7 linked regions of the Homo sapiens genome follow. The protein of the gene in region 5 purifies or fractionates together with the protein of the main gene of each other region. This does not show direct contact. Each region holds a gene or a part of one and is shown on either strand. Other genes may lie near its edges.

Evidence for each region.
Region 1: the proteins of NEU2 (region 5) and TIFAB purify together in Homo sapiens (tandem affinity purification; one large-scale study listed by IntAct). This does not show direct contact.
Region 2: the proteins of NEU2 (region 5) and CWF19L2 purify together in Homo sapiens (affinity purification with mass spectrometry; 3 studies listed by BioGRID and IntAct, with this or other methods). This does not show direct contact.
Region 3: the proteins of NEU2 (region 5) and MYB purify together in Homo sapiens (co-immunoprecipitation; one large-scale study listed by IntAct). This does not show direct contact.
Region 4: the proteins of NEU2 (region 5) and PEX5 purify together in Homo sapiens (affinity purification with mass spectrometry; 3 studies listed by BioGRID and IntAct, with this or other methods). This does not show direct contact.
Region 6: the proteins of NEU2 (region 5) and NOTCH3 purify together in Homo sapiens (affinity purification with mass spectrometry; 3 studies listed by BioGRID and IntAct, with this or other methods). This does not show direct contact.
Region 7: the proteins of NEU2 (region 5) and LONP2 purify together in Homo sapiens (affinity purification with mass spectrometry; one large-scale study listed by BioGRID and IntAct). This does not show direct contact.

What each region holds. Positions count from the first base shown.
Region 1 is NC_000005.10:135,443,726-135,447,453, forward strand, and holds the end of TIFAB (TRAF-interacting protein with FHA domain-containing protein B), read right to left. Parts: 3' UTR 3,384-3,728; coding exon of another isoform or gene 2,649-3,383; 3' UTR 501-2,648; downstream 1-500. Other genes in the region: DCANP1 (dendritic cell nuclear protein 1), read right to left, coding at 2,649-3,383. UniProt on the Homo sapiens protein: Inhibits TIFA-mediated TRAF6 activation possibly by inducing a conformational change in TIFA.
Region 2 is NC_000011.10:107,440,826-107,444,325, forward strand, and holds part of CWF19L2 (CWF19-like protein 2), read right to left. Parts: intron 2,225-3,500; coding exon 2,114-2,224; intron 798-2,113; coding exon 678-797; intron 1-677.
Region 3 is NC_000006.12:135,184,308-135,187,807, reverse strand, and holds part of MYB (transcriptional activator Myb), read right to left. Parts: intron 1,906-3,500; coding exon 1,788-1,905; intron 1-1,787. UniProt on the Homo sapiens protein: Transcriptional activator; DNA-binding protein that specifically recognize the sequence 5'-YAAC[GT]G-3'. Plays an important role in the control of proliferation and differentiation of hematopoietic progenitor cells.
Region 4 is NC_000012.12:7,203,186-7,206,685, reverse strand, and holds part of PEX5 (peroxisomal biogenesis factor 5), read right to left. Parts: intron 3,255-3,500; coding exon 3,135-3,254; intron 1-3,134.
Region 5 is NC_000002.12:233,031,469-233,035,471, forward strand, and holds NEU2 (sialidase-2), read left to right. Parts: upstream 1-1,203; coding exon 1,204-1,404; intron 1,405-2,647; coding exon 2,648-3,589; downstream 3,590-4,003. UniProt on the Homo sapiens protein: Exo-alpha-sialidase that catalyzes the hydrolytic cleavage of the terminal sialic acid (N-acetylneuraminic acid, Neu5Ac) of a glycan moiety in the catabolism of glycolipids, glycoproteins and oligosacharides.
Region 6 is NC_000019.10:15,180,496-15,183,995, forward strand, and holds part of NOTCH3 (neurogenic locus notch homolog protein 3 precursor), read right to left. Parts: intron 1,307-3,500; coding exon 1,081-1,306; intron 668-1,080; coding exon 466-667; intron 334-465; coding exon 186-333; intron 1-185. UniProt on the Homo sapiens protein: Functions as a receptor for membrane-bound ligands Jagged1, Jagged2 and Delta1 to regulate cell-fate determination.
Region 7 is NC_000016.10:48,348,800-48,352,299, forward strand, and holds part of LONP2 (lon protease homolog 2, peroxisomal), read left to right. Parts: intron 1-2,781; coding exon 2,782-3,003; 3' UTR 3,004-3,500. UniProt on the Homo sapiens protein: ATP-dependent serine protease that mediates the selective degradation of misfolded and unassembled polypeptides in the peroxisomal matrix.

The sequences.
Region 1 (3,728 bases), on a different chromosome or scaffold from region 5:
TCGGACTCCTTCCTGGCCAAATGCCTGGAGCTGGGCCCTTTGCTGCCAGCACCCCTTAAAGAAGTGGGCATGGTTGGGGAATGGAGGGCATTTCCTCTGGAAAGAAAAGGCAGAGGAACCAGTAATGGCCCAGGAGTGCTGATATCCTTACTGGGGTGCACATTTTTGTGAAATGAGACCCCTTGCCAAATAGAACTCTAAAGTTCCTTCAATTCACATGCCTAGAGAAGAAAATAATCAAACTCTTCTGTCAGGGATCACCTGGCTCCCCACATCCCCTCACTTAGGATGTTTTATTCCCACTGGAGCATGTGATTGGAAAACAAAGGTAAATAGGAGCAATTGATTCCCGGATCCTTTTTTTTCCCCAGCAGGATTAAAGCTGCCTCAGCCATAAAGAGTTTACAAACTCTAAAGAAAGATAATAACTTCCCTTCTCACGGCCCGGTCATGGGGAGGCAATGCATGTTTCCAATCAGCTGAGAATGTAACTCAAATGGTAGGTTTTATTTCACTTTAATCCGCCTGTGAGTTCACGTTAAAGGTAAGAGGAATCACAGCCCTGCAATTCAAATAGGGTTCATTAAATTCGGCATCTCCTCTTAACTGGGCTGGGTTGTTTACTCCTCCCACAGTCTTGGATGGGTTTTGAGGGTCTGGTGCGGTGTCCGGTGAACGGCTGCAATGCAGGTTAGGCTGCCACCATGAGGGAAGCTGGAGGGAGGACCTGTTAACCTCATGGTACTGTGGCGACATCAGCCACCACTACGTGTCACGGGGTGGATGCTGAGGAAGAGAAAACAGAGCAGAGCTGGAGAAGTTCGTACAGTAGATACAGTGGAAGACAGGTGGCTCAGCTGGCAGCCCACTGCAGGGGTGGTGGAGGTCGCAATGCGCTGTCCCCACCACATGGAGCTTGCTTGCCTCCGCACCTCTTTGCTGGCTGCAGCCTTGCTGCTCAGTGGGCGGTTGTGGAAAGAATCGGTTCTCAGTTCCCATTCCAGCTCTGCTATTTAGACACCGGGAGACCTGGAAACAGCCCCTTGACAAAGTCTTGCTCTACACGTTTCTGTAGTGACCGTCCATTTGAAGGGATAGGGAAATATTCCCTCAGTGTCCTGCTGTGAAACTGTTAAAGCCACCCATCCTATGAAACTCACTCCTTTGGGTTAAGCATCACGTTCTCAGTCCTTTCCTGTGTGGATGGAGTGTTGGCACAGTGAGGCGGGTGTTGCAAGTGGACGCGTCGGGGGTGGTCTGCACGGGCTGGCCTGCATAGCCCAGGGGTGGAGAGAGGGGTCAGACTAGAACCTATGGAGACTTGGTGGGCAACAGGCCTGGGCTCAGTCCAGCCAGCCCAACCTCTGATTGCTATCCTCAGAGCCCCTCCAGGGTCTCCTTGGCAGGGGCTGTCCCCTATGAGCCTCTGCAGGGGACAGGAAGTGCTGACTGAGAACTGTCTCTCTGTGACATGCACCCTGTCAAATCCATAAACCTTCCTCAGCAGTCACCACACAGAATCCCAAAACCCCAGGGTTCTGCTTGAGTTAGAGCTACAAAGTCTCAAGGACTAGAAGGAAGCACCAGCCTTGTTCTGCCCCAGCTAGAGGGTCTGCGCTGCCCCAGCCAGAGGGTCTGTGCTGTCCCTGCTGAGGCCTACAGGAGGCAGAGACATTCACCTCCACTTCCTGTCTGCCCATGGCTTCGCGGCCTTCTCACCCCAGCTGGCCAACTGGCTTCCCACCACTATGGGCCTCGCACTGCCCATGCCGGGCCTGAGGGGCCTGGCTCAGACTTTAGTATCCAAGGGGACTGCTGCCTTGACCACCAGAGCCCCCCCGTCTGTGCATCTGTCCTCTGTTCAGCTCTGGAAAGGCCACCGGGAACACAAGAGCCAACAACCCATGGCCTTTGTCTGCAAGGAACTTGAGGTCTCACCGGGCAGACAGGCACGGAGTGAGTGCTCCACCATGGGCCTCCCTTCCTCCAGGTTGCATCCAGGACTATGCTGTCTAGCGTGTCTGCTGTGACTTCCTCATGGCAGAGCCCCACACTGTGGCTGTTTATGGAGCATTTGCAAGTCTCCCTCGAGGGGAGCCCGTGTCTCTCACGGACAGCTTGGCAAGATTCACATTCTTGGAAAAGCAGAGGAATGCGAGGGTTAAAATACCTTAAAGGGCAAGGAGATGATTTCTAGATTTCCAGACAATGTCTCAGAGAATTGTAGTGCTCTGGGGTATGCCTGAATGTAACTAATGTAGCTCCTTTTGTGCCTGAGTGTAGACTGGGTCCATGTGCCTACATGCATTCAGTTCCTCCCACCAAACTGGACAGTGATAGCTAACCCTGTTGACCCTTATGTCTGGGTGCCTTAAATTTGTGATGCCTCAAACTGACCTTCACAATGACTCTAAGGAGGTAAGTACTGTGAACTTTCCCGTTTTCTACAAGAAGAAACTGTGGCACGGAGAGATTCAGTTACTTGTCCAGGATCACAGAACTATAGTAAGTGGGGGTGGGGACAAGAATTCTAACCCAGGCAGCAGTCTGACCAGAGGGCCCTAGCTGGGAGCAGCGTTCATGTGCACTGTATGTTCGTGTTTAGTGTATGTCTGTGCATACTTGCGTGTGTGCACACGCACACATGTTCACTCAGGCACGTGGGCTGCCCTGCGGTGGGAGCTGAGAGAATGCAGTGGAGGTTGTTGGGAGGAACTCACCCGCCTGCTCTGGCTGTCTGAGCAGGTGAGGGATAGTGATATCAAGTGCGAAGACCAGGCCCTGAAGCCAGCCTGACGGTTCCAGCTGTTAGGAGAAAGTGAAGGTGGGTGCCATGGATCTGATGATTTCAGTGATTTTCTACTCAAGAAAAATGAAGTCTCGGATGGGCAGAGCTTAACTGCCTTAAAAACTTGGTACAGGGCAAGGTGTGAGTTTCCCGGTGAGACTGTGTGAACTGTGAACGGGTAGAGTCTGAAACTACAAACCAGATGTTTCCGGGCTCCCTCCCGCCTGGTCTGGCCTGTCTTCCTTCTGCTGCTATGCAGTTCATCCTGGGTCCCTGAGGGCCTCGCAGATGCTTCACTCGAAAGATTGGAGTTGCAGAGTCCCCTGTGGAGGAATTGAACTGCCCCCTCTCGCAGGACCCCAGCTGGCAAGGTTTTGTTCCTCCCTGGAGGGTAGAGACCCTCACTGAGGCCCTGGAGAGGGGCACTCAGGGGCAGCAGCTCATTCCCAAAGTTCTCTGGTGGAGCTGGGGAGTGGCACCCTGGGAACTCTGGGGTTTCCCCACCAGCTCCTCTCTCCAGTCTTTGGTGTCCAGGTACAGTCTCCAGGCCGTGGCTTCTCGAGTTCTGTATGTGGGTTGCTGCTCCGTAATGCATAGTTGGGGGACCATTTTGGTCAGTGACAGATCACTGCTGCTTTTCATCAGACCAAAATACATGTGGCTTCTTCTCCTTGCCAGCCCTACCAGGGCATCTCCCATTATACTAACCCTGCCTATTGGACCTTCTGATGCAAGGAGCAGATTAAAATCCCCTCCCTGTTGCCTACCAGGTCCGTGGCTACAACTAAATCCCTAGTTGGGGAATCACAGAGCACAGGTAAGCCCTTGGGTTCTGGAGCCAGCTTACTGGGGTGTGAGTCTTCCTTAGCTCCGTGTGGATGGTGAGCCCTCCTCTCTCAGGTCTCATGATAGTAGCTAACCCTTATTAAGTGTGTGCTGG
Region 2 (3,500 bases), on a different chromosome or scaffold from region 5:
GCAATCAGATAAATGCGAACAAAAACAATGAAATACCATTTCTCACCCATTTATTAGGCTGATAAAAAAATATATAAAGTTTGACAATTACAGATACTGAGTACTGGAAAAGAAACATATGCTCCTGGTACAGTATAAATTGGAATTCCAGATTACCAGGATTGTGTGATGCCCCTAGGAAAGTCATCAGCTTCAGCACTTCCTTACTTCTCTGGATTCATGCTTTTGCCTCATTTTTTGGTCTCTACAGATTTCCTATTGCTTCCTTACTAGCAAAGTGACAACAATAAAGTATAAAATAAGCATGCTTATTTTACATTATATCCACCAGAATTTCTAGATGTCTTGAAATGGAAGTATTTTCATGGTGTCTAATTCAGTATGTACACTGAAACAAAAATTGAGTGAGTTCACTTTCAATTTAATGATATTAAACTCAATATTCACTCAACTTTATATATGCCCTAGATTTATAAATCTAGTAAACCTTTAAACTCACTTCCTATAGGAAATTTATTTTTCTTAAACTGATGTATTTCATAGTTGTTCTCACTAATTGTATTAAATACTATAAAAAATAAAATGGTATTTTACAAGTTAAACTGCATTTATATAAATGTCTTGTAAGTTTATTAAAGGTAAATTAGAAAGTTAAAGCATTTCAAATATTCTCTTACCTGTTCAAGCGCTTGGTTTTTCTCTTGCTCTATTTTCCTCATAGTTTCCTTTTCAGCTTTGAGTGATGATGATGACACAGTTTTAACAGACATAAAATCAACAGTCATCCACTCATCCCTCTGTTAAAAAAAAAGACATAAAATCAACAGTCATCCACTCATCATTTCAATCTGAACTGATTAGAATTTAATAAACACTTGGTAATAAGAGCAGGGACTTTGGAGGCAATCAAACCTGAAACAAGTCCTACATGGCTATATAACTTGAAGCAAGCTTCTAAATCTCTCTATACTTTAGTCTCTCCTCTATAAAATGGTATAAAATCCCTACCTTTCAGGATTGTTTTAAAGAGTAAACAAGATAACAGATCTAAAGCATCCAGCCCAAAGCCTGGCACACAACAAGCAATCAAACTTAGTTCCTGTTCACCTTTCTTCCTTCACCTGTGGCTAACAGTGGACAAATTACATTCTTCCTGAGGCAGATGAACTATAGCCCAAAATTTTTGAACTATTCAACTGTTAAGTATTGTTAAGAAAATTAAGGCATGAGGTGAAGGGAAAAAAAACTGTGATGGAACTCCACTCACTATAGAAGGGTCAGACAGAGATACAGTATAAGGCTTTAGGGACATAAGGGGAAAGTGCCACTTCTTATCAACAATCAAAAGCATGAAAGCCTCTAAGGAACGAGAATAGAGAGGAACACTCACTTTCTCACAGTAGAAGGGGAAGGGGGTTCTAAACATTCAGCAAACAGCAGTACTGCCAAAATTATTCCTAAAGTATATTGTTTTCAAAGTCTAATTGTTCTCCTGAAGAAATTTTAATCATCTTTCATTTTCATATTCATTTATTCTCAAAAGTTGATACTTTTTTCTTTAAAACCAAGTGATAGGCCAGGTGCAGTGGCTCACGTCTCTAATTCTAGCACTTTGGGAGGCTGAGGTGGAAGGATTGCTCAAGCTCAGGAGTTTGAGACCCAGTCTAGGCAACATAGGGAGACCCCAACTCTACACAAAATAAAAAAATTAGCCAGGCGTGGTGGGCACACAACTGTGGTCCCAGCTACCAGGGAGGTCGAGGTGGGAGGATTACTCGAGCTTGGGAGGTCGAGGGTGCAGAGAGCTCTGATTGTGCCACTGCGGCCCAGCCTGGGCAACAGAGTGAGACCCTGTCTCTAAAATGAATGAAAGAGAGAAAGAGAGAGAGAGAGAGAAAGAGAAAGAAAGAAAGGAAGGAAGGAAGGAAGGAAGGAAGGAAGGAAGGAAGGAAGGAAGGAAGGAAGGAAGGGAGGGAGGGAGGGAGGGAGGGAGGGGGAGGGAGGGAGAGAGGGACAGAGAGGGAGGGAGGGATAGAGAGGGAAGGAGGGAGGGAGGGAGGAAGGAAGGAAGGAAGGAAGAAAGCAAGGAAGGAAAATCAAGTGGCTTGCTTACCTTGATAATTTGGGTGTCATCTTTTCCTGACTTTTCATCTTTCACTTTCCAGGCTTTTTCCTTGTCAGGAGTCTGGGATGGAACAGCCTCAACCCACTCATCTTCAGAGCTCTAAGAACATTTAGCATATAAGTGAAATTGTCAAATTTGCATACTTTGATATAAAAATTCTGTGCTGTTAAGTGGTAGAAATTCAACATCGTAGAAAAAAATTCTTACACTGTATTTCCCCTTTACAAAATGGCAATGAAATTTTAAAGAGCTGGGTGTGGTGGCTCACACCTGTAATCTCAGCACTTTGGGAGGCTGAGGCAGGCATATTACTTGAGGTCAGGAGTACAAGACCAGCCTGGCAAACATGGTGAAACACCATCTCTACTAAAAATACAAAAAAGTTAGCCAAGCGTGGTGGCGCATGCCTGTAATCCCAGCTGCTCAGGAGGCTAAGGCAGGAGAATCGCTTGTACCCAGGAGGCAGAGGTTGCAGTGAGCTAAGATCACACCACTGCACTCCAACCTGGGCCACAGAGACTCCGTCTCAAAAAAAAAAATTTTTTTAAAGAAAAAACATATAAACCCACTAGTTTGAGTTAAGCCCACCAAACACAACCAAATTATTTTTATTTTCTCATCCATTTATTATCAAGCCAAGAGAAGGCAAAAAAACAAAAATGGGAACTGCCAAGTAGAGACCTCACTTCAGCACAGAGCTTCAGTGACTACCAACGTCAAGTAGTTACTCACATCTCTGCTTCACTAGAACAGGGGAAACACCACCCAGGTAAACGAATTTGCTGTTTGCCCCTAAGTTTCACATTTTGAGATTTCCCTTGATCTAAAACTGCAGATAACATTATCTTCTTCAACACCCTCCTGAAGCTTTATACCAATTCCCATATTCTCAGCAAATGATGTCTTCTTTTACCTCATCAAGAAAACTAGGGCCACCTTATCCTCCTACCCACCGCCCAAAACATTTATGGCTGTGCCTATCCTTATTTCCAGTTAACTCCTCCTATTTAAGGCAGATCTTGCTCTAAAGATTTTGATAACTCTTTCTGTTCCTCCAGGACCTTGCTCCATCAATTATCTTCTCCTCTCACGGCATTAACCAAAGATCCCTAATGGCCTAGAAACAATTTCAAGCATTTCCCACCCTTTTTTTTTTTTTTTTAAGGAGGGAAGGGGGACCTTCCTTGACCCCGTATATTCCTCCTCTAGCAGGAATTAATCTTCCGGCTTCCATTCTCAGATGAACTTCTTGAAAGAGTAGTCTACATGCACCGCCTTCACACTCTCACTTTCATACATTTTCTCAAAACTCTACAATACATCTACTGTCCCCATTAATCTACTGAAACTTCTCCAAACTCACCAGTGGCTTCCA
Region 3 (3,500 bases), on a different chromosome or scaffold from region 5:
ATATCAGTTATTTACTATATAACTCTGTTCAAGTTAAAGTGAATGAGGGAACGAATCTAGAATAAAAAGTCTCTCTAAAGTATCCGAATACAGGAGATATTAATGTAATATACGGACTTGGGAGTATAGATTTATTTAGAATCAGACCAGAGTTGGCATCTTGACTCAACTATTAATTGTGTAAAGCGGGTATACCATTTTACCTTTCTGGGCCTTAGTATTGCCATCTATAAAATGGAAATTAACAGGGTTATTTGGGGATTACATGGGGCAATTTATTAACATGAGGCTGATATTAACAGGGTTATTTGGGGATTACATGAGGCAATTTTGCAAAACATTTATCATAATGCCTGGCATATATTGAGTGTTTATTATAAATAACTGCTTTACTCTGTTAGGAAAAAATGCATTCCAGTGCTAGATTCAGTACACATTTACCTATGGTAATAAATAGGATCTTGAGCAAGAAATAGAATATTTCCAGTTAGTTTAACTTTTTATAAAGAAATAAAGACCATTTTTAAAATTAAATTTGAAAGCTATATAAGAAAATCAGTTAGATTTAGATAGGCCAGATGTGTTAGAACATAAAAGACATTAAACATTTCCAGCTAATCAGTTCTTTTAGTTTATATGCTGTTCACAATCCTACCAGTTCATAAGTATATAAATGCATTCCTTCTTATGTTTCTGCAAAGGTAACATTCACACACAGTGGAGGTCCCTGGTACAATACAGACACAAGAATTAGGAAACCAATGTTGACAACAGAATTTCCGTATCATAAGGATTATCCAAGTGGATAATCTTAATAGGTAAAATATGAATTTCCTATGGGCCTCTCTGGGAATCCTACCTGCCTGTTAAAAGGAGCTCTGGTTTAAATGAAGCAGAGAACAGTGAAACTGAAGAAGAGCCAATACCATTTATTGTAACATGAATCATCTAAAATTAGTTGCAAAAATTTTAAGAACATTAGAGAAACTTTTCTCCACATATTAATAATTTTGCTTCTAAAATATTTTTCCATTCCTACAAAATCAAACTTTTGATAAGCCAGCCGAAAAAGAAACAGGAGAAGCAGATGTGTCTCCATCCATTATCGGATGATTTTAAAACATACCTTCATATAGATGGCTCTGTTAAGTATATCAAGGATATTAAATCAATACACTGTAAAAAGATGAGTTCTCTGAGTGTTTTGTTTTATTCTTTTGTTTGTTTTGTTTTTGGGAGTAGCAAGTCATTCACTTATTGAGAGAACATTTATTAATATCCTATTTTGGGTCCAAGCATTTGTGAATTCAGGAAACACAAAGATGAATAGACAAGAGCCCTGCCCTCAACAGACTTGCAGTCAGCTGGAGGAGGTATATATGTCCCAGCAACAATAAAGTAGAACATGCACCCATGCATGGGATCACAGGAGGATGCATCCAATCCTGTCCGGCGAAGCCAGGGATGGCTTCACAGAAGAGGTGATGCCTTCATGGGTAATGTAAAAGTAGGAAGAAGAGGTGGGACAAAAGGATGAGAACTCAACAGGCAAAAGGAAACACAGATGAAGCCTAAAATGAGAAGAGGACATTCAAAGAACTGCAAATAGTGTGGAAATGGATAATATAATGAAGTGGGGGGCATAGGGCACGCTGCACATGCGGGCTAGGATAAGATCTCAAGGAGCCTGCTAATGAGCTTGAGCACCTGTAGTTTAGTTGAAATTTTGTTTTTTATAAATTATACACTCTATCTATTTTCTGCGTCTTGATAAAATGATTAGTTACCTCTTCCCGGGTCCACCTTGTTTTCCCCAAGTGACGCTTTCCAGACTTGGGAAGCAGCCCATCATAGTCATGGTCACACATCTCAAAGTCCTCATCATCCTCGTCACTGCTATATATGCTGCAGAAATAAGAATGGGTAGACGTGGGCTGAAACAAGAGGATTTAGACTACTACTGGATTACAAAACTTACACAAAACTCCTCAACAATCTTTTCAAAGGTTATGAAGACAAAACTTTGAAAACTTGCACAACAAGATTGTTTGCTGCATTCTGTTGCTCTAGTATTGTAAACTGGTTCTGCTGTTATGGGTATCCACAGACACGGCCAAGGACCTGGCACCTTCCTATTCCCCTGCATGTCTGAACCTGCTGTTACTATTAGACCAGGGACAAGTTACACATTTGGCCACCTTCCAACCAGTGAAGGTTTAAGTTGAAAACTTAAGGTTAAGGATAAGAAAAGGAACAAGAACCCATGTCCTTTATATAAGTGCACACTCAAAATCTTTGGCATCTGTCACATCGTTTAAATAATATTTCTCAAACATAATAAACAATTCAACTATGCTATTCCAATGGGGTTTTTGTTTTATTAAAAGAAGAAAAAAATCAAGAAGTAGTACAGCGCAAAACAGAATTATAGTGATCCCATAAAGTCTAGAGGATTAGGAGAATCTAAGAGGAAAGGATTTTAAAACCAAAGCAAAGATAAGAACATTGAGTGATCAAGCTTTAATGTTTTGTAAATAAAATTAATACCAAATTGCTCACAACTCCAGGCCTGGTTGATCCAACTTGTGCCCATGTTTACAATACTTAGTTTCTAGAGTAACTAAGTGAATAATTAGGCCACTTGTTAGTCAGAGTCTTACTTACTCTTGTTTTTTCTGTCTCTGATGGAATGGTGTTTGAAATATTATAAAATGTAACCTAATCCAGAAGGGATTTCCCCAGAAAAAAGCCATGGATTTAAAAGAACCCATTACTATTTTCGAAAGCTTTTTCTTTTATTTAGTTAACCTAACCTAGGAAATTTTATGACTTTTGAAGAAGTAACTATATGCTTACTGTTTGTTAATCATAATCATAATGTTTGTTAATCTAATCAACTGATCAGATGACAATAATTTTACAGACACGGTTTATTTTATAGTTTTTCTTATAAAACTTAAAATAGGAAAAATACTATCTTAGAAACTTCACTAAAATTTGTCATTGCAATGTTGGGAAACCCATTAAACTAAGACCAATAAAAACAATGATATAAAGCCATATCATAATGTAAATCATTGTTTTTAAAAAGAAAAGTTATATTCATTACAGGTTTTGTCTTCCCAAACTAACTCACTGGTATGCATATTACCAGCCCCCTACAAGTGAAGCTGAAGTGCTTACCAAAAATCCTGAATTGGGGGTTCTCATAATTTAAAGCTATTATTTTAAGCAACAATCTGATAGTCCAGGTTGAATGGCGACATGATGTAATCCAAATTTAAAATACCACCACCACCAAATAAAATCCCAGGAAATATATATTTATAATCTGTAATAATTCCTTTCATTTAGTGTCTGTGTTTTGAAACAATAGCCTAGTTCTGTTTCCACTGTCAACAGGAGGCACTAAACAACTTCTGAACAAGAACTACAAAAATGTAAAACACGATATGATAAAGCAAAAAAAAAAAAAAAAAAAAAAAGCTATAAAGCCCAGA
Region 4 (3,500 bases), on a different chromosome or scaffold from region 5:
TAAATCTTACCAGCAAAATTCTAAGTCATGATCAGATGCAAATTATTTGTCACAAATGAAAATTAAATAATTACAATGGGGGGTTTAAGAAGAAAGACATATTATAGTAGATTTGAGATAAATGTATAGAAAGTATATTTATATTGAAAACAAGTGTGTTTTTGGACATCTCTGCATAATATAAAAACTAAGAAGGCAGAAAATGACGCTAGTCCAGTGATCAGCAAACTTTTTCTGCGAAGGGCCAGATAATAAATATTTCAGGCTTCGTGGATCTGCTGCAACTACTCACCTCTACTGTTGTAGTGCGAAAGCAGCCAGACATAAGTAAACAAATGAGCACGGCTGTCTTCCAATAACATTTTATTTATGGACACTAAAATTTGAATTTTATATAATTTTCACTTGTCACAAAGTATTACTCTTTTGATTTTCTCCAACCATTTAAAAATGTTAAAACCATCCTCAGCTAGTGGATCACTAAAAACATAAAGATTTATCCCACAAGCCAGTGTGCTGGCCCTTGCCCTAGACTATTACAGTTCAATAAAATAAATCCTTCTGCATTCAACCTCAACTATTGTTCATCATTAATACGTGTTTTAAGCCACTCTACAGAAAACAGAGATTACTGTCATCTATAATGCAGTTTCCTAATAAAAGTAATTCCTGCCTCTCAGAGCCATTGAGAACATCAAATGGGAATCTTCACCAACGCCTTACCAAAAAGCTTAAGATACTATCTGTAAATAGCTATTATCCTCACTGCTCTAGATACTTCCTTAAGATATGATGGCCTGTATATGACAGCCAGAAGTGATGCGAATGCTCTTCAGGTGTCTTCATTAGATAATACAACAACTCAATGCCACCATCTTGCAACCACAGGATTCTCTAAGTTTCCTCTCATCCATATTATCTACCCTCCTTGAAGTCTCATCAATTGCTGATCAAAGAGGAATTTTCCAAAATTAGAATATTTGCATAGATGATGGAAAAAGAGTACTCTGGGGGATCCCTCAACAACCCACAGAACACAGGATAAGCTTGGCTTCACTGTTACATCCTGAAAAGCCAAACCCAAGTCATTAATTTTATCTGATACACGGTCTGGTCTGCTCCAAAATCTCATAGGATCAAACTGCAGAAATGATCACTACAAAGAGTTTGTCCCATCACATACTTCTCTTTTATCATAATAGTATATTAATATCTGCCTGAGCTGCAATGTAAATTGTCTCTGAAAATATAAGGGCTATCAATAAACAAACAGTGCATTCAAAGAGATCCATGAATTTATGTAACAATCAAGAGTCAAGTCCTTTGTTTTTAAAAAGTTCTATTGACATGGAATTCAATATTAGCTTAAAGCCAGATACTGTCTAATTGCTTACTACATCACTTTTTGAGGAACATTAATGCAAGTATTTCTAGTCCTAATTTTGCAATATCCCAAAGTATCAATGATATCAAGTAGGGCTCAAGAATCTACAAACATACTTTTAAAGTTTTTAATTAAAAAATGTATTCTGGATATGACACCAAAAGCTCATATCCCAAAAATCATTGCAAAGACTAATGTCAAGAAACTTTCTCCCTATGTTTTCTTCTAGGCATTTTACGGTTTTGGGTACTGCATTTGGGTCTTTAAGCCATTTTGGATTAAGTTTTGTACATAGTGTGAGGTAACGGTTCAGTTTCACTCTTTTGCACATGGATATGCAGTTTCTCCAATACCATTTATCGAAAAGACTATCCTTTCCACATTTCTATTCTTGGAACCTGATCAAATGTGATTTTTTTTCTAAAAAAAAATTTGCTTTCTAATTTGTCACATTGTTCTATGTGTCTGAAAAAAAAAAATGTATTCTGGCCAGCATGTCATAAATACGAGAGTAATAAATGATAAAAGAAAATGCTGCTCATACAAAACTAGTATTATGTCTATATGTATGAAAAGCATGGACATTTTTACATAAATGTACAACTTTCCATTTATAAGTTGATGGGGCCTATGTGACTTATCAAATTGTTAATACAAAATAATAACAAAAGTGTTATCTATATTTCCTTCAGTTCTTCCTTATCAAAATTATATACAATGAACTCATAGTCTAGTGAAATACATGGCAAGGTCCCAGCTGTCTTTTCCCTTATATCACACAGGATAGTTAGAAAAATCCAGATCAGACTGGAATAATAAGCAAAATCATATTTTTCCTAATACTGTTCTTCACTGGCTCTCAAACTCTAGCCTTTTTCTGAACTGCATCTTCCCATCTTTGCATAGCTCCCTTATTACATCAAGATCCATCTCCAGCACCCTGGTTTGCATCTCAGGCCCTGGTTCCAGCCCCACAATACTTTCCCAACCAGATCTGAACTGAGAAAAAGACATCACTACTCACATCCCCAGTTCCTGTTTTGCCTTTTTTCAAAACCAAGTGATTCTTTCCCCTCTTCATGTTTCAACTCAGGAGCTCAGTTATTAAACACATCCCCAAATATCCTACAACCCACAGGTAGATTTGTTTTTCAGTAAGACCCCAGAAGTAACATATGCTTCTAAGTCAACAGCACATGCTATAGGCAAAATGCAATCATCTTTCATACTACTAAGAAATTTCCCTAATATTTAAGTTATCTAATATAAATTCTTTGAAAACCCTAAATTAGGGCAAGTGGCTACTACCTATAAAAGATAAGAACTTAAAATGAATATGTGAGTTTAAAAAGTAAACAGATATTAAGATGTGGAGGCAAAGGGATAGTCTGTCCACTAACACTCCCCACCAAAGGAGTCAGCAGTCTTCTCAAAAAGCTCCCAATCTGACCTCCAAGCAGAGCTACTTCCTCTGTGCTTTTAATGCAGCAAGCATGTGCAAACCTCCTTCACAGGTGTTATGTACTGGACTGTCGTTATTGACAAAGATAGTCTCATTAACATCTATATCCCAAGAATAAAGTTTATACTCAATCACTGAAGAGGAAGGGCAAGGGAATTATTCAGACTTCTTTTCGTGGAAAGGGACTCAAGAAAATACTTAAAAGCACCCTTCAAATTCAGGATTAAAGGAAAGACGTTAAAAAGAAGGAAGTTCTGGAACCTGAAAAACTAAGAGTTTTTACCTCACCTTATCATAGGTAGCTGACGTAAGGTCATCATAGTCAGAAAGCCAGGGGTGGGCCTCAGCATCCCGTTTTGCCATCTCCTCCAACTCTGCCTGCAACTTGTCCCAGAAATCGACATCAGACTGTAAGGAAGGGAAAGCAGATAGAAAAAGGAGATCCATCATGACCACCCCACCCCACACTCAGCTCTGCTGGGATTCTCTAAGGCAGCAGTTCTTGAATTTCAATATGTTTAAGAATCATCTGAATAAGTTTTTTAAAATGCAAATGGCCAGATGCTATCCCCAGATACTGATTTAGTAGTCTGGGGTGATGGCCAGAAATGTAATGTAGTGCAGTGCAGTGCAGTGCAGTGCAGTGCAGTGCAG
Region 5 (4,003 bases):
TTTAAATAGATAACGCATGCATGTGGTAGAAAAATGAGAGCAGTACAAAAGGGTGCACAAAGGCAAACCTTGCCCCTCTTGCTGGCCTCTTGCCCACTTGCCCTCTGCAAAGGCTGTGTCTCAGACGGGGTGCCCAGGACGCCGGCTCTGACACGGAGACCCACGGCAGGCAAGAGCCTCTGGGGGAAAGGGAGGAGCAGCAGAGAAAGAGGCGGCTGTAATGCAGTCTCAGGGAAGGCCCAGCCGCCCGGAGGGAGCTCCGGAGCCGCACTGTTCCTGGTCAGGAGTTCAGGAAGAGGGTCTTCAGGCTCTGAGTGGACCAATCATCAAGCAGCCCTTCTTGGGTATGACCTGGGGCAGATTCTTCATCTGGGAACAACTGGCCCATCCTCCCCAGGCCAGGGCCCTGCAGCCAACACTCCCCAGAGCTGCGGGATGCATCCTCCTAAAGGGACCTAGGCAGCTTAGCCCGAAAATCACTGTCACCCACTGTCCCCAAGTTACCTCTGTCCCCTCCCTACCCTTTTTAGCTGAAGACTTATTTTTAATTGTTATTTTCTTAGACCTCTGGAGCACCCCACGCCCCCAGCCTGGGTTAGCTGTCAGGAGCCCCTGTCTCTTCCTTTCCCACTGCAGCGCCGCCCCCTCGCTGCCTCAGGGGGAGCCCACGCAGCAGCGGGGGCAGACGGGCCTCAGCCTCAGGCAGCCTGGGGAGCAGAGCCTTAGAAGCCATGCTTTTTCTTTTTCCTTTTCTTTGAAACAACTTTCTAGGGCTCTGGAGTTATAAAAAGCTCCCATGTGTCACTTTCTGGCATTTGGGCAGCTGCCGAATGCCACCCGGCCTGCACTGCTGTCCTCCCGAGGTTTGCCCCTGGATTGATGGGCTGGGTTTGGCAAAAGCAGCTGGAGGTTATCGAAAATCTGTTGTAAGGAGCATTGTTAACTTAGAATAAAAATCGAATCCAAAACACGCTTTTGCAATACCCCCTCCCGATATCCACCGAGGCAAAGGCAGAATTAAGAAGCAGGGTCTTGAGATGTAGGAAAGGAGAATGAACCCCACGCGGGAAGAGGACAGGCCGCCCTGACTTTGGTCCACTCAGCCAGGGGGTGAGCACCACCTGTCTTGGTGAATGACTCTGAGCCCATCTCAGGTGTGGCTGCAGGTGACACATCTTCTCTTCCTGTCCACCCCCCAGCCCCATGGCGTCCCTTCCTGTCCTGCAGAAGGAGAGCGTGTTCCAGTCGGGAGCCCATGCCTACAGAATCCCTGCCCTGCTCTACCTGCCTGGGCAGCAGTCCCTGCTGGCCTTCGCGGAACAGCGGGCAAGCAAGAAGGATGAGCACGCAGAGCTGATTGTCCTGCGCAGAGGAGACTACGACGCACCCACCCACCAGGTTCAGGTGAGGCAGGAGGTGTCTGCACTGGCTCCCCAGGGCTCTGCCACACCCTTTGCTGCTGTGATCAGGGGCCAGTCCTGGATCTCAAGAAATACAGGGACAACTTTATCCCTCAATGGCTGTACTCCGGAGGAGAGATAGAGCAGAGAAAGTGCCCCTAATGGTTCCCTGGACCTCTGGGTTCACTGTGAATTAGTCCAGCTGGCCTCCATCTGTTTTCATGAAAGATTGAATGAGTTGCCCAGCATCCGTGATGACCTCACGGAGGAATAGTTCAGTGTTGCATAATGGAGGGTTGTGTCCTTTGAGTAAAATTAACTTGGGGACTTGGGGTGGGGTGATGGCTTGTGTCCTAAAGTCCCATTTTATAGATTAAATAATTAATCCTGATGACAGCACCCAAGGCTGGCTGATCATATTTGAAGAGTTTAATATTATTATCATTCCTTTGTGGTCATTACTACACAGCTGTTCAAAGCATGGGATTTGAAGCAGATGGACCTGGGTTCAAGTCCTGGTTCCGCCACTGACCACAGATGTGGCCTAGGCAACTCCTCCTCCCTGTCGCGGTCTCTTGCTCACTGTAATAATGGAGCTACTAACACCTGTTCCCTGGGGATTGAGGCATTAGATGAGACCATGGATGTTAGACTTTTGGTGCTGTGTCTGTGCTTAGAATTGCCCAATGGGGGTAGCTGTTAATAAATGGGGACAGACAGCACATGTGACATAGACTTGGGGATTCTGGAAGCTCAATGTGACTCCTCCTTGGCTACATGAGTAGGATATGGAGTGTAGAAGGTGAGAGGTGACCGTCACATTCTGTCTTGTACTGGTCAGGTTATTGCACCTTCCGCCAGGGCTTTGCTATTCAAGGATGGTGAGCTGGACTGGGGTGGGAAGTGGAGGAACCAGGATGAAGTTGGGAATGGCTCATGCACGAGTCATCTTCATATCTTGTGGTCTGGCAGGTGGGTGTTCTGTAAATGCATATTGATGGCAATGGAAGGAACAGAATCACTCAGCCGAGTGTGGCTGCCTTGGAGGGGTGAGGTGGCACCCTGGGCCCCGCAGCTCTGGGGAAACGTTGCAAGGAGGATATGAGTGTTGGGTGAAGAGTTCTTCTCGATGACTTTTGACTCTAACCCGGGAGACACACCCGTGCCCACCCCTCCCACTCATGCAGCTCCTGGCACCATCCCCAGCTGTTTCAAGGCTGCCTTCTTCTTTCTCTCTCCCTACTCAGTGGCAAGCTCAGGAGGTGGTGGCCCAGGCCCGGCTGGATGGCCACCGGTCCATGAACCCATGCCCCTTGTATGACGCGCAGACGGGGACCCTCTTCCTCTTCTTCATTGCCATCCCTGGGCAAGTCACGGAGCAACAGCAGCTGCAGACCAGGGCCAATGTGACGCGGCTGTGCCAAGTCACCAGCACTGACCACGGGAGGACCTGGAGCTCCCCCAGAGACCTCACTGATGCGGCCATCGGCCCAGCCTACCGGGAGTGGTCCACCTTTGCAGTGGGCCCGGGGCATTGTTTGCAGCTTCACGACAGGGCCCGGAGCCTGGTGGTGCCCGCCTACGCCTACCGGAAACTTCACCCCATCCAAAGGCCGATCCCCTCTGCCTTCTGCTTCCTCAGCCATGACCATGGGCGCACGTGGGCGCGAGGGCACTTTGTGGCCCAGGACACCCTGGAGTGCCAGGTGGCCGAAGTCGAGACTGGGGAGCAGAGGGTGGTGACCCTCAACGCGAGAAGCCACCTCCGAGCCAGGGTCCAGGCCCAGAGCACCAATGACGGGCTTGATTTCCAGGAGTCTCAGCTGGTGAAGAAGCTGGTGGAGCCGCCGCCCCAGGGCTGCCAGGGGAGCGTCATCAGCTTCCCCAGCCCCCGCTCGGGGCCTGGCTCCCCAGCCCAGTGGCTGCTCTACACTCACCCCACACACTCCTGGCAGAGGGCCGACCTGGGTGCCTACCTCAACCCGCGACCTCCAGCCCCTGAGGCCTGGTCAGAGCCGGTACTGCTGGCCAAGGGCAGCTGTGCCTACTCAGACCTCCAGAGCATGGGCACCGGCCCTGATGGGTCCCCCTTGTTTGGGTGTCTGTACGAAGCCAATGATTACGAGGAGATTGTCTTTCTCATGTTCACCCTGAAGCAAGCCTTCCCAGCTGAGTACCTGCCTCAGTGAGCCTGTGGTGCCCACCTCAAGGGCCTGCCTTTCACCTGCACACCCAGCTCGGAGGCTCTGCGGCTGCCTCTCCTTCCCGTGGCCCCTGGACGTGGGGGCCACTCTGGGCTCCCTTCGGCGCCCGTGTGTGGAGAGAGGTGCACCTCTTGCTCTTTTCCTCCTGCGTGGTTCCAGTCTTCCCAAAAGGTTCTATTTTCAGCCCAGAAACCAAAAGTGTCTGGCTTCCCATAGCCCCTCCATAGGGAAGGCGTGGAGGGTCCTGCAGCGCAGCTGTCACCTTGTCTGCCTGTCCCCTACCCCCAGCTTTGTGTAGGTCTTGACAAATTTCTAGTTCAACTCCTTCCTTCTTGGGAACCATTCCTTATGTTCCTGGGGAAGAACTGAGATGGAAGACCATGGTGTAAATTAGCAGAG
Region 6 (3,500 bases), on a different chromosome or scaffold from region 5:
TCACAGTGACAGACACACACCATCCCGGCCAGTTGTCACATGCTCACACACCCACACCACTCAGCCACACACCCCATCATGCCCCATAGGCTCTGTGGCACCCCCATTCGGCTCACACTAGCAGGAGGTACGTGCATGAGCCCCTTCCCAAGGCCCCACACGCCCGCCCACATGCTCCCACTCACCGATCTGGGCTGCGGCCTCCCTGCAGGGCAAGCTTCGGATGTCACAGAGGCGTCCGCTCCATCCAGGGGGACAAAGGCAATAGGCCCCAGTCTGGACGCAGCGACCCCCGTTTTGACAAGGCTGGCGGCTGCACCAATCCACCAGCGTCTGGAGGGGAAGCACTCAGAGTCAGTACTGTGGGGTGGGGGGTAGTCTGGGAGAAACTGTGCCCCGACTTGGCTTCTCCCTCCTAGGATCCCAGGCAGGCTCCTCCCCCAGGTCCCCAGTAACTCCACCCACCTGGCACTGCGGGCCCGTGAAGCTCTCGAGGCAGGTGCAGCGGAAGCCAGGGTGGGCGGCGCTGCAGACGCCCCCGTGTAGGCAGGGCCGCGAGAGGCAGGGGTCTGCCTCATGTTGGCAGTGGGCTCCTGTGTAGCCGGGACGGCACAGGCAGCTGAACGAGTTCACGCCGTCCACACAGGTCCCGCCATTGAAGCAGGAGCTGGAGCGGAAGGAGTGGGAGGGAGGATCAGGCTCCGCCCCCTCACAGGCCCTGCCCTCCTTCCTGAGTCCCGCTGTTAGCGCTGGGGACGTCCCACTCCCTGACCCTTATCTCGGCAAGAAGCTGCAGCCCCAGCAGAAGCCAATCAGGTCCCTTAGCTCCAATTCACCAGGGACTTCAGCCCTAAGGTGAGAGCCACCTGGAAGCCATGCCCTCTCAGGCACCAGAGACTCCAAGGTGAGCTCCAAACAGACGCCCTGCTCCTTCCCTGGCCCTGCCCCATCAGTCATCAGAGTCCGCAGTGGGTACCAAGCTGAGGACTCCCCCAAGTCGTTGCTGTCCCCACTTCGTCCCAGGTCCCAGGCCCCATCCCAAGCCAGAGTCCCTGCTCTCCAAGCAGAGGCCCCGCCCACCTGGGGCTGCAGTCGGGCAGGTCCTGTTCGCAGTGGAAGCCTCCGTAGCCTGGCGGGCAGGTGCAGGTGAAGGAGGCCACGTGGTCGGTACAGGTGCCCGGGCCGCAGGGGTTGCTCAGGCACTCATCCACATCGCGGGCGCATCGTGGGCCGGCGAAACCAGGGAGGCAGGAGCAGGAAAAGGAGCCCACGCCGTCTTGGCACGAGCCACCGTTCAGGCATGGGTCTGCGGACAGGAGGAAGGCGGTCTGGTCACCTACCTTGCCCCCATTAGCCCAGTCTGACTGGGATATGCCTTGGATTGAGAAGAATTCAGGAGGAAACCAGGTTCAACTGGGATGGGGTGCATTTGGTCAGAGGAATCTAAATCCATCCCCTTCTGTGGCCTCGTCCCCTCCTTTATCTGGAAACCTCACCTATGTGGCAAGGGCAGGATGTTGGGAAAACCAAAAGGTCCCTTTAAGCTGCCAAGCAAACGCTGCTAATTGTGCCTGATCTAATTCCTGTGCTTGGAACAGGACAAGGACAGTGGCCATTAGCCACATGTGGCTACTGAGTCCTTGAAATTGTGACTAAATGGAGATGTGCTATAAATGTAAAATACATACTGGGTTTCAGATTTTGAAGACTTGGTATGAAAAAAAAAATAGGCTGGGCGTGGTGGCACACACTTGTAATCCCAGCACTTTGGGAGGCCGAGGTGGGCAGATCACTTGAGCTCAGGAGTTCGAGACCAACCTGGGCAACATGGCAAGACCCCATTTCTATAAAAAATACAAAAATTAGCTGGGCATGATGGTGCACACCTGTAGTCCCAGCTAGTGGGGAGGCTGAGACGGGAGGATCACTTGAGCCTGGGAGGTCAAGGCTGCAGTGAGTCATGATCGCACCACTGCACTCCAGTCTGGGCGACAGAGTGAGAACTTGTCTCAAAAAAAAAAAAGGAAACAATGTAAAATATCTCATTAACAATTTTATACTGGTTACATGTTGAAATGATATGTTAATATATTGGGTTAAATAGATTATATACATTTATTTATTTATTTATTTATTTACTTTTATTTTTATTTTTATTTTTTTTGAGATGGGGTTTCGCTCTTGTTGCCCAGGCTGGAGTGCAATGGCACGATCTCAGCTCACCACAACCTCCGCCTCCCGGGTTCAAGTGATTCTCCTACCTCAGCCTCCTGAGTAGCTGAGATTACAGGCATGTGCCACCACGCCCAGCTAATTTTGTGTTTTTAGTAGAGACGGGGCTTCTCCATGTTGGTCAGGCTGGTCTCAAACTTCTGACCTCAGGTGATCCACCTGCCTCAGCCTCCCAAAGTGCTGGGATTACCGGTGTGAGCCACTGCGCCCAGCCGATTATATACATTCAATAAATTAAATTTAAATATATTAAATTTGGTCAGGCACAGTGGCAGCAGTCTGAGAGTCCAAGGCAGGAGGATGGCTTGAGGCCAGGAGTTTGAGACCAGCCTAGACAACGCAGTGAGACCCCATCTCTACAGAATTAAAATAAAAATATTAGCTAGGCATGTAGTGAGTGCCTGTAATCCTAGCTACTCAGGAGGTTAAGACAGGAGGAATGCCTCAGCCCAGGAGTTCGAGACTGCACTGAGCCAAGATCGCACCACTGCACTCCAGCCTGGGCGACAGAGCCTCACTCTGAATACATAATAAATAAATAAATATAAAATATTAAATTTAATATCTCCCATTTCTGTTTATTTTTTAATGTGGCTACTAGAAAATTTAAAATTGCATATGTGGCTTGTGTTATTTATCTGTTTGGCAGCACCCCTTTTTGTTTGTTTGTTTGTTTGTTTGTTCGTTTTTGAGACGGAGTTATGCCTTGTTGCCCAGGCTGCAGTACAATGACACAATCTCAGCTCACCGTAATCTCCACCTCCAAGGTTCAAGTGATTCTCCTGCCTCAGCCTCCCAAGTAGCTGGGATTACAGGCATGCGCCACCATGCCCTGCTAATTTTGTATTTTTAGTAGAGATGGGGTTTCTCCATGTTGGCCAGGCTGGTCTCAAACTCCTGACCTCAGGTGATCCGCCCACCTTGGCCTCCCAAAGTGCTGAGATTACAGGTGTGAGCCACCTCGCCCGGCCTCTGGGGGGCCTTTTATCTCATACTTTGCACATGATATTAACTCGATTGCTCTCAAAGACAGTGCACTTAGGTCGGGTGTGGTTGCTCACGCCTGTAATCCCAGCACTTTGGGAGGTGGAGACAGGTAGATTGCTTGAGCCCAGGAATTGGAGACCACCGTGGGCAACATGGCGAAACTCCGTCTCTACAAAAAACACAAAATATTAGCTGGGCGCTGTGGTGTGCGCCTATAGTCGCAGCCACTGGGGAGGCTGAGGTGCTTGAGCCCAGAAGGCAGAGGTTGCAGTGAGCGATGA
Region 7 (3,500 bases), on a different chromosome or scaffold from region 5:
TCCCATTCTAAGATTTGCTAAGGGAAAAAAATATTAGTGTGGTCATCAGAAATATTGGCAGTTACATGAAAATTTGAGGCCTTGTTCTACTTGACAAATTGTTAAAGATATAGCACATGTGCAAAATGGGATAGTAGTTGTTTTTAAGCTTTAAGCCCATTTCTTAAATTTGAAGTTTCTTTGAGACCTCCTGTCCCCCTGCAGAAAACTTTGCTAGTATAGAATGGAAACTCTAATAAAGATTAACCATATCTAATGACTACATTTTGAAAAGGTTCTATACATGTGGGGTCTTGAGGCTCCAGATCCTAAACTGCTTATAAAAATAGTGTGATAAAATGTACAGAACTTGAGAGTATTTAAAGTTGTTAGTTGAGTATTAGTCTACAACAGACTAGACTACAATTTTAGTCCACAACAAGATTTTGGCAGGTTCATAGCAAGATGAGGAAAAAAAAAAAGAAATAGTCTTTTTTTCTTTTTTCTATCGAGATGGAGTCCGGCTCTCTTACCCAGGTTGGAGTACAGTGGCACAATCTTGGCTCACTGCAACCTCTGCCTCCCAAGTTGAAGTGATTCTCCTGCCTCAGTCTCTCAACTAGCTGGGATTACAAGCATGCGCCACCACGCCCGGATAATTTTTTCTATTTTTAGAACCTCCATAGAACAAATGGGTTTTCTACTTGGTCCCCTCTCAGAGCAAATCGTAGCCCAAGTAAAGGCTTCTGCAGCCTCAGGAGAGACAGCCACAGCGGCCTGGGGTACACCTTCAGCTCCAGACCATTACAAGAGGCAGGATGGAAAGCAGCAGCACTTGAAAGAAAGGCCTGTGAAAGCTGGAGAAAACCTCCTTTGAGAACAGAGGACAAGACGGGGCTTTGGGATTTGAAAGTGGTCAAAGAATTATTCAGGAAAAAACTATAGTGAAAAACAATTTGTTGTTAGAACTCCAACATCTAAAAGGAGTTCTAACAAACAGGAAAATGGAATGGAACAAATTATCCAAGAAATAACTGAACATTTCCTAGAAGTTAAGGCATCTTGAGATCGAAAGGACCATTACTAACCAGGAAAAACATTTCATCCCCTTGACTTTTCAGATTACTGAGGATAAAGCGGCCTCAGCACTGACACTGGATGTGCAGTACCTTCAAAACTATGAGGGAAAATGGGCCAGGCGTGGCAGCTGACGTCTGTAATCCCAGCACTTTGGGAGGCTAAACAGGAGGATAGCTCAAGTCCAGGAGTTCAAGACCAGCCTGGGAAATATATCTCTACAAAAATTGTTTTAAAAATAGTAAGGAGGCTGGGTGTGGTGGCTCACGCCTGTAACTCCAACACTTTGGGAGGCCAAGGTGGGCGTATCACTTGAGGTTAGGAGTTTGAGACCAGCCTGGCCAACATGGTGAAACCCTGTCTCTACTAAAAATACAAAAAAATTATCCGGATGTGGTGGCGCATGCCTGTAATCCCAGCTACTCAGGAGGCTGAGGCAGGAGAATCGCTTGAACCTGGGAGGCAGAAAGTTGCAGTGAGCCAAGATTGTGCCACTGCACTCTAGCTTGGGTGACAGAGTAAGACTGTCTCAAAAAAAAAAAAAATAGTAATGAAAGCTGTGAGGGAAAATGTTTTACATCTAGTCTTGTATACATGGCCTTAGTATCAATCAAGTGTGAAAGTAAAATATTTTCAAACATGCAAGGAATCAGTTCATCTTACACTCTTTTGAAGAAGGTACTTTGAAGGAGTACTTCAGCAGCATGAACAAAACCTTGAAAGAAGATGCCAGTGGGGCGGGAAGGCCTGGAGCAGCCAGCCAGTCTTAATTGGAGCAGATGCAACACATTACCCCAAAGCAAGAATACTCCATACTCTTCAAGTTCCTGTGGGCCAGGAATTCAGGAGAGGCTGAGCTGGGTTCTTGTGGCCCAGGGTCTCTGGCCTTACAGTCTAGGTTCCAGCCAGGCTGCAGTCACATGAAGGCTGACAGGCTGGAGAAACTGCTTCCATGGTGGTTGACTCATGTGACTGGCAAATTGGTCCCATCTAGTGGCAGGAGGCCCCAGTTCCTCACCTGATGGACTTGCCCATAGGCTGCTTGAGTGACCTCAGACATTATGACTGGCCACCTCCAGGGCAGGTGATCAAGAGAGATTCAGGCAGCAGCTCTCGTTTTTTGTGACTCAGCCGTGGAGATCATACAGCATCACTCCCACCACACTCTGTTTCTTACCGAGTCACAAAGCCTGGCCCACATTCAAGCAGGGGGACCATTGTAGACATGTTTGAAAGCCACCATAGGAGCCTAGTTTAGGGATACATTTTCTTCATTAACCAGCATGGAGGTTCTGGCTTTAAACCTGTAGAGAGGGAAGTAACCCCAGCACACAGCTAAGCTCTGCAGGAGCGGCGCTCATGGTCAGAATCACGTGCTGCTTTTTCAGATCAACCTAAAGACTAGACGGTTGTGATTACACCTGAATGCCAATTTACTTTGACAGCATTTATAAAAACAATCATTGACAGAAGAGGAACTCATACCTATCAACAATTTAGAATCCCCCTCATCAGAGTCTTTAATATAACACCAATTGAAACATTAAAAAAAGGTTACTACTTATCCTTTTTCCTGGCTTTCCTAGCTCATGCTATAACAAAACGGAAGATGATTTGGATGTTTTAAAATAGTAGTGGTTAAATTCAGTGAAAGAAAGCTGGGTCAGGGTTTCTTTCAGCTTGAGGGTGATCATTAACCCTAAAAACTTTTTTCTCTCCTTACAGGTGGGTGGAATTAAAGACAAAGTGCTGGCGGCACACAGAGCGGGACTGAAGCAAGTCATTATTCCTCGGAGAAATGAAAAAGACCTTGAGGGAATCCCAGGCAACGTACGACAGGATTTAAGTTTTGTCACAGCAAGCTGCCTGGATGAGGTTCTTAATGCAGCTTTTGATGGTGGCTTTACTGTCAAGACCAGACCTGGTCTGTTAAATAGCAAACTGTAGGTCCAAATCTCAATTTTTTAGAATTTTAAGTTATGAAGTGCTCAAAGGTACTGACACAGTTGATTTTATTCACACCATTAGGGGTATGCAAGATGTCCCTGTTTTATAAACATAATCACAACAGTAATAAACCTCAAGTAGTGGCTAGTGTTTAGTATAGAAATATAAGATGTTGATTTAGTAAACTGATAAAAATCGAATTCTTGTCTTTTTAGTGGGATCCTTACTGTCCCTGGAAAGATATAGCATAGTGGTTCTCAGCACAGTCTCCAGAACAGAAGCATCTGTAGTACCTGGTAACTTGTTAGAAATGTACATTCTCAGGCTCCACAGCAGGCCGCCTGAATCAAATCCTGGGAGGTGGGGACAGAAATCTGTGTTTTAAGAAGCCTTCCAGGTAATTCTGCTGCACACTCAAGTTCAGGAACCACCGGTATAGACCATTACCTTAGTGGATTTACCTGTAGAGTTTATTGGATCCTGAAACCAATCAATTA